Homo sapiens: one gene and its partner. The protein of the gene in region 1 interacts with the protein of each later gene in a biochemical or structural test. Each region holds a gene or a part of one and is shown on either strand. Other genes may lie near its edges.

Region 1 (3,748 bases):
CACAGCCATCGTTATGAACATATTGCACAAAATTTCTAGAACTAAACATTAAACTTGTACCCTACTTTTATTTTTTAAAGCTGAAACATTTGATGCTGCCGGTAAACTCCACTTAAGTTTATAACCTGTGCCACAGCAAAGAATGGTGATGCTATTTATTCAACTACCCTTTTAAAAGTATGGCAAACATGTTCAAGAGGAGCTACAAAGGACTTGGGATGGTACAGGGCCCAACTGTAAGCTTTCTTAAAAGTGATGCCTTCAAGTAACTTCAGACATGTAAGCTGCTGCACATCCAAAAAGTCTAAGAAAATATTCCAGAAACTCAGAGATTACCTACAGAATGCATTTCAGGCTAATTATGAATACTGCCATAAATAAAGTTTTAATTAGGACTCGAAAACCTTTCAGTCATAGCAATTCTTGTCAAATTCTATGGGGATGGTAACTGAAATAAAGTAAGGAGAGTATGTATAATATATATTTATATATATAATATATATAATGCCATTTTTCCATTTCCAATGACTACACCATAAAATGTAAGCAAGGCTTCTCAAAAACATTGAAACATTCAAAATCAAAACCCTCATTCAGACCTTCACATTCCAAAGGAAAAATAATAACAGTGCAAAAGCCCATTATAATGTCATTATTTATGACCTGGCCCTCCATGTTACATATTGGAACAATAAAGTTACGTTTTAATATGCGGTGCCCGAAATTGTAACAAAGAACAATATTTATAACTATCTTCAAAACATGAAGTTGATTTTCATTTTAGGTAACAATTTTCAGCTTTTATGAAAGACAAGGTGGCATATAAATTTCAATGGTGAGGTGTTAGAATAGTTGTCTCTAACTTTACCAATTTAACTTATGAGCAATCAATCAATACTCTATATATCAATGTTTAAATATAAATGTGTAAATCCTAAGAGCTTTGTTAAAAATTTAAAAATTGTTGAATGAAACTGACAAGGTATGGAAAACGTGTCAACATTATTTACTAAGAATATTTTAGATGAAGTTCTGCCTAATCTATTTGCCATCAAACTCTATAAATGCTGCTCTAGTAGGTCCTATTCAATCTGTATTTGTAAATTAACTAGGTCAGACCACAGCTAGTGAACAATTTCAGCACCAATAAGTTATTGAAAATGGAATTTTATACCATTAAGAAACAAAATGGCTGGATATTCAAATGTCAAGGTGAAGGTATAATTTGAAGACACCAAATTTCTGGAAAAAAAAACCTTTTTAATAATATCTTCACATTAGCTTTACAATAGTAGTTGTACTCCGCTTAAAATCGTATGCAGTCTGGGCATATCAAATATATGATGATTTTTTTTAAGAAGTGAAATTGAAGCCCTAGTCCCAACTCGGGGGAGCACTATGAAGAAATGATTCAACACTGCACATTTAAAAAAAAAAAAAAAAAAAAAAAAAAAAACCCTATTCTTTCAATAGCAAATCAATAAAGCACATGTAGGACAATTTCTACTGAAAAATCAAATGTCTTTTTTTTGTGTGCAGCATTGAAAGTTTACTGCAACTCTAATTTCCTTTTTAACACAAATGTCCTTTTTAATATAAACATTATATGTATTCAGTATTCAAGTAAAATTCCCTAACAGTTAATGACATTTAAAAAATGTGCAAAACTGCAAAATTCATTGTAATAGAATGTGTAAGGTCAAAAGGGTGGAACGGCTGACAGCTATTGAATAAGTGCATCATAAATCTTCAAAGAAAAAAAACGCTTACTGTAGAATCTCAAATTGAAAATTTCTGTGCAGCATTACAAAATATTTTATATTTAATGAGAAAAAAGAAGCTTGCAGGCAGCACATGAAGCATCCACAGCAGGTATTATGATTGAAAACTAGTAAAATAAGTGTAAGTTGTTGACTGATGTAGGTACTAACAGCATCTGAATTTTAGCACTGGCCTTGATTACACAGGAGATGGAGAAGTCGTTACAATTGAGAAAACATATTTAATAAATCATTGTCAATTTTTATAATGTTTCAAGCCCATTCTTTGTTGATAGCCTCCACATTTATATGGTTAAGTCATTGTTGCTGTGTTTCTTACCTATGACATTATTTTTATATCCCTTCATTTGTGGATCTTAAGATGTTGCAGAAGGTTCATTCCTGTACCCCAATACAGATTCACTTCCTTTAGCTGCCTTTTCTAGCACCAATATGCTTTAAAAAAAAATGCGCAAACAACAAGCAGTGACAGCGGCCAATTCCTCGAATGTCCAGATTAATAACTGTAGCATGCTAAAGAAAGGTGTGTGTAAATAGCTGGAGATGGTATATGGTCCAGAGTCCAGCATAAAATTATTTCCTTTCTGAGCATTCCCTCCATTCCCCTAACCCGAATACATGCATTAGAATGTAGCAAAACCCTTCGGAAACCTCTCTTAGCCAACTGCAAACTTATCTGTTGCCACAAGTGCAAAGGGGTAGGATGTGAACCAGTATATCACAAAGCTCTTTAGCCACTTCAGTTGGTGACAGAACACAAAAGGAAAAAATTCCTACGTATACACATCAGTCTGTCTCCACTTTTTATAAAACTGGAATAAAACGGGAAAGTGCCATCTTTATTAATCCTAATTGAATTTTAAATGTCCTTTTGACACAAAAAGGTATATACATGACACAGCTACACAACCTTTTTTCAACTGGACAACAAGTGTCAAAACCCTGTGGATGTATAGGGTAAAACAAGATTGGTCAGGAAAAGAGAATTGTTCCTATAACTGGTAATCTGACACAATGTCCTATTGCCATTAAAAAAAAAAAGGTCCATTTTCAGTTTATTCAAGTTTATTTTCATGGTGTTTTATCCCTCTTGATAAAAAAAAATTCAGACTTTTGTAATTTGTGTATGCTGATCTTCATCAAAAGGTTCATTCTCTGGATCAGAGTCAGTGGTGTCAGAATATCTATAATGATCAGGTTCATTGTCACTAACATCTGGTGTTACAGAAGTTGAACTGCTAGCCTCTGGATTTGACGGCTCCTCTACTGTTTTTGTGAAGTACAGCTTCACCTAGAGAAAGAAAATTTAAAATGAAAACCCACAAATATGACTCATCTTAAACTATTTAGTGAAATATATTTTTAACAGATTTTTTATTCCATTTTGCAGATGAACATATTAATTTTTAAGCACTGTAACAAACATGATCTTTAAGAGGCCTTTTAAATGACCCTCTTCTTAAGATGTTCAACATTTTCTTTCTTGCTAGGTACTAAACAGATAAACTATCAGGATGTTAATACAATTTATTTATTTTTATTTCTGGAGACAAGAGTCTTGCTCTGTTGCCAAGCTGGAGTGCAGTGGCATGATCTTGGCTCACTGCAACCTCTGCCTCCCGGGTTCAAGCAATTCTCGTGCCTTAGCCTCCCAAACAGCTAGGGCTACAGGTGTACACCACCATGCCCAGATAATTTTTTGTATTTTAGTAGAAATGGGGTTCATGATGTTGCCCAGGCTGATCTCAAACTCCTGAGCTCAGGCAATCTGCCTGCCTCAGCCTCCCAAAGTGCTGGGATTACAAGTGTGAGCCACCACGCCCAACCTCAATTTTATTTTTTAAGGAATATAAGTGGCAAATATTAACTAAATAATTATACAAAATAAATGCAGATTGAAAGTCATCAATAGTTTACATAATATAGCATTTGAATTACAAAATTCAATTCACAAACAGCTGAGTTCA
Region 2 (3,748 bases), on another chromosome or scaffold:
AGGCCCAGGTGGAAGGATCGCTTGAGCCCAGGAGTTTGAGACCAGCCTGGGCAACAGGGTAAGAACCCAGTCTCTACAAAAGATAAACAAAATTAGCCACGTGTGGTGATGCGCGCCGGGCGTGGTGATGCACTGGGGAGGCTGAGGCGGGATGATCACTTGAGCCTAGGAGGTCAAGGCAGCAGTGAGCTGTGATCATGTCACTGCACTCCAGCCTAGGCGACAGAGTGAGACTCTTGTCTCAACAAAAACAGAAATAATAACCTCTAGAAAAGATAGCCACTGCGTGAGATCACCTGAGCAATACTGTGGGAAGAGTGTCTAGGGAGGAGGAAACGGGGATTCATTTTCTTAAAAAGCACCAAAGAGCTGGGCGAGGTGGCTCACGCCTGTAATGCCAGCACTTTGGGAGGGCGAGGCGGGCGTATCACTTGAGGTCAGGAGTTCGAGACCAGCCTGGCCAACATGGTGAAACCCCGTCTCTACTAAAAATACAAAAGTTAGCTGGGCGTGGTGGCACGTGCCTGTAATCCCAGCTACTCGGGAGGCTGAGACAGGAGAAACTCTTTTTTTTTTTTTTTTTTTTTTGAGACGCAGTTTCGCTCTGTCGCCCAGGCTGGAGTGCAGTGGCATGATCTTGGCTCACTGCAACCTCCACCTCCCGGGTTCAAGCGATTCTCCTGCCTCCGCCTCCCGAGTAGTTGGGATTACAGGCGTGCGCCACCATGCCCGGCTAATTTCTGTATTTTTAGTAGAGACGGGGTTTCACCATGTTGATCAGGCTGGTCTCGAACTCCTGACCTGACCTCGTGATCCGCCCGCCTGAGCCTCTCAAAGTGCTGGCATTACAGGCGTGAGCCACTGCAAGGGGAAGCTCTTGAGCCCGGGAGGCGGAGGTTGCAGTGAGCCAAGATCGCACCACTGCACTCCAGCCTGGGCGACAGAGCTGGACTCCGTTTAAAAAAAAAAAACAAAAAACCCCGAAGAGCTAAACTTCAGCACCTCCAGGCTGCTGATGTAACCATCCTGCCGGCAGAGAAGCCGGGCCAGCGGGGCGTGGGAGGAGCATTCCCGAGTCCGAGAGGGAAGGCCCGGGAGCCACGCGGCTCAGGAAACCGCCCCCGCGAGGGGATAGGAGGATACTGCGTGGCCCCTCCTTCCGTGACTCTTCTTAAGGCCCTTCCTCTGAAGGGGGCGATCTCTTCCTCAACCCAAGGAAACAATGCTCTCGAACCTATGCCTGCAGCTCTGCTCCAGGCCGCTCACACAGTGCCTTCCCTAAAAGAACTCAGCCACATGGGCTACAGGGATGAAGGGTTGGGGGGAAACAAATCCAGGTGTGCGCTTCGACCGCACGCGCCTGCGCCAAAACCCCGCTTGGCCCTTAGTTTCAGCCTCTGCTGCAGCGCCTTCGTCCGCCTCCTTTTTCCCGCCCCCGCCGGGGACGTCACAAAGAGTGACGTGTAAAGTGAACAATCACAGTCCCTCTCCGCGCGTGCCGGGAGGAATGAGAGGGAGGTGGGCGGGGAGAGGACGGAAGGAGTAGGCTTCGGGAACTGGCTGGTCCCGGTCACCCAATCAGAGAGCTCTGGGGAGGGGAGGGGCGGGGCCCGAAGGAGGGTGGGGGGTGGGGCTGGGGAAAGGAGTTGGAAGGCTGCGGGAGGAGAAGGCGGGCTCCCAGAGATTAAAAGCACCCAATCAGAGCGCGCCGGCTTCATTCGGAGAGCGGCGTGGGGCGTAGCCGCCGCCGCCGCGCGCGCCGGGGGCTGGTTAAGGCCATGAAACAAAAGAAACACTGAGAGGGGAGCCGCTGCCACCTCCACCAGCCCGCCCCGCCGCCGTCCCCACCCACCCACCTAGTTACCTACCTCTGCCTCCTTCCCCTGCCCCTCCACCCCGCCCTCTCCGGTCTCCGGGCGGCCCTGGCGCTCCTCGGCCCGGGTCCCCAGCCCCGCCGCCTCCCCAGAGGAAAGGTGTTTGCGAGCTGAGCAGGGCCCTGGCCCTGTCCGCCATGGGGCTCGCCGCCTGCCGCGCCTGACCCGGCCGCCGCCGCCGCCATTGACAGCGCGCCGCCGCGATGCCCAGCGGCAGCTCCGCGGCCCTGGCCCTGGCGGCGGCCCCGGCCCCCCTGCCGCAGCCGCCCCCGCCGCCGCCGCCGCCACCGCCGCCTCTGCCGCCGCCCTCGGGCGGCCCGGAGCTCGAGGGGGACGGGCTCCTGCTGAGGGAGCGCTTGGCCGCGCTAGGCCTCGACGACCCCAGCCCGGCGGAGCCCGGCGCCCCGGCGCTTCGGGCCCCGGCAGCGGCGGCGCAGGGCCAGGCCCGGCGGGCGGCGGAGCTGTCTCCAGAGGAGCGGGCTCCGCCCGGCCGGCCCGGGGCCCCGGAGGCGGCCGAGCTGGAGCTGGAAGAGGACGAGGAGGAGGGGGAGGAAGCGGAGCTGGACGGAGACCTGCTGGAGGAGGAGGAGCTGGAGGAAGCAGAGGAGGAGGACCGGTCGTCGCTGCTGCTGCTGTCGCCGCCCGCGGCCACCGCCTCTCAGACCCAGCAGATCCCGGGCGGGTCCCTGGGGTCTGTGCTGCTGCCAGCCGCCAGGTTCGATGCCCGGGAGGCGGCGGCCGCGGCGGCGGCGGCGGGGGTGCTGTACGGAGGGGACGATGCCCAGGGCATGATGGCGGCGATGCTGTCCCACGCCTACGGCCCCGGCGGTTGTGGGGCGGCGGCGGCCGCCCTGAACGGGGAGCAGGCGGCCCTGCTCCGGAGAAAGAGCGTCAACACCACCGAGTGCGTCCCGGTGCCCAGCTCCGAGCACGTCGCCGAGATCGTCGGCCGCCAGGGTGAGTGCAGGGGTGGGGAGGTCCAGCTGGGCATGGCCCCGGGCGTGGGTGGGGAGACGAGAGAAAGGAGCGTGGGACGGAAAAGGCGAACCCGGCGAGGCCCCCAAGTCCACCGCGAAGGGGTCTGGGAGGAGCCGAGGGTCGACCAGATGTGAAGATGGGTCACCTTGCGAAAACCCACGCTTTTCCGCCCGTCTTGCCTGGTAAAAAGTGTGAAGTTTCTCGGGCGACCCAGTCCGGTGGTGTTCACGTTACTTGGGCTGTATTCGTGGAACACCAGGCTGGCGTGGCACCAGAAACCTCAGTGAGGTGGTAAAAGGTCGGGCTCGAGGAGTTGTGGGTTCGCTGTTGGGTACGGAAAGCTTCGAGATTGCAAGTTTGCGCCGCCGAGTGTCTTCTAAAAGCGTTCAGCCTCCCTTACAAGAACTTGTTCAGATGGAGAAAAGAACAGAAATGGAGGCCTGTAGACAGAGCTCACTGGGGAGGGAAGGGGTGTTCAAATGGTCGGTATCACCGCCATCCCCTGCCCCTCCGCTGTTGAGAAACTTAGCTTTGGAAAAGCAGCCCAACTCACTGCCGCCTATCTTAACTGTATTTCTCTCGGTACGTTTCAACTCTCGGAAAGACACACTGACACACTGGCTGTCTTTTAAAACTGTTCAGTGTGCAGGATGAAGAAAAAATGGACACTAAGGTAATTAAGAAACTTCATCGGTTTATACAGTTTTCAGTTAATTCTCCTCTTCACTTGCCAGCACACCAGTACTGCAGACAGACTCCTCCCACATTGTTCAGACAAAGGACCTGTGTCTCAGATTCCAGGAGTAGATTTGTGAAGGTGGGGGAAGGGGATGCCTGGGGTACCTCTGTATCCGACATTTTTAGGGAAGGTCCTAAGTTCTTTATGGTAGCATTTC

What was found. Proteins that work in one complex are often made in the same cells at the same time.
Region 2: of the proteins of PTEN (region 1) and MEX3C, one has a biochemical effect on the other in vitro, tested with the Homo sapiens proteins (2 studies listed by BioGRID).

The regions. Positions count from the first base shown.
Region 1 is NC_000010.11:87,964,611-87,968,358, reverse strand, and holds part of PTEN (phosphatidylinositol 3,4,5-trisphosphate 3-phosphatase and dual-specificity protein phosphatase PTEN), read right to left. Parts: intron 3,073-3,748; coding exon 2,887-3,072; 3' UTR 1-2,886. UniProt on the Homo sapiens protein: Dual-specificity protein phosphatase, dephosphorylating tyrosine-, serine- and threonine-phosphorylated proteins.
Region 2 is NC_000018.10:51,195,650-51,199,397, reverse strand, and holds the start of MEX3C (RNA-binding E3 ubiquitin-protein ligase MEX3C), read left to right. Parts: upstream 1-1,716; 5' UTR 1,717-2,077; coding exon 2,078-2,831; intron 2,832-3,748. UniProt on the Homo sapiens protein: E3 ubiquitin ligase responsible for the post-transcriptional regulation of common HLA-A allotypes. Binds to the 3' UTR of HLA-A2 mRNA, and regulates its levels by promoting mRNA decay.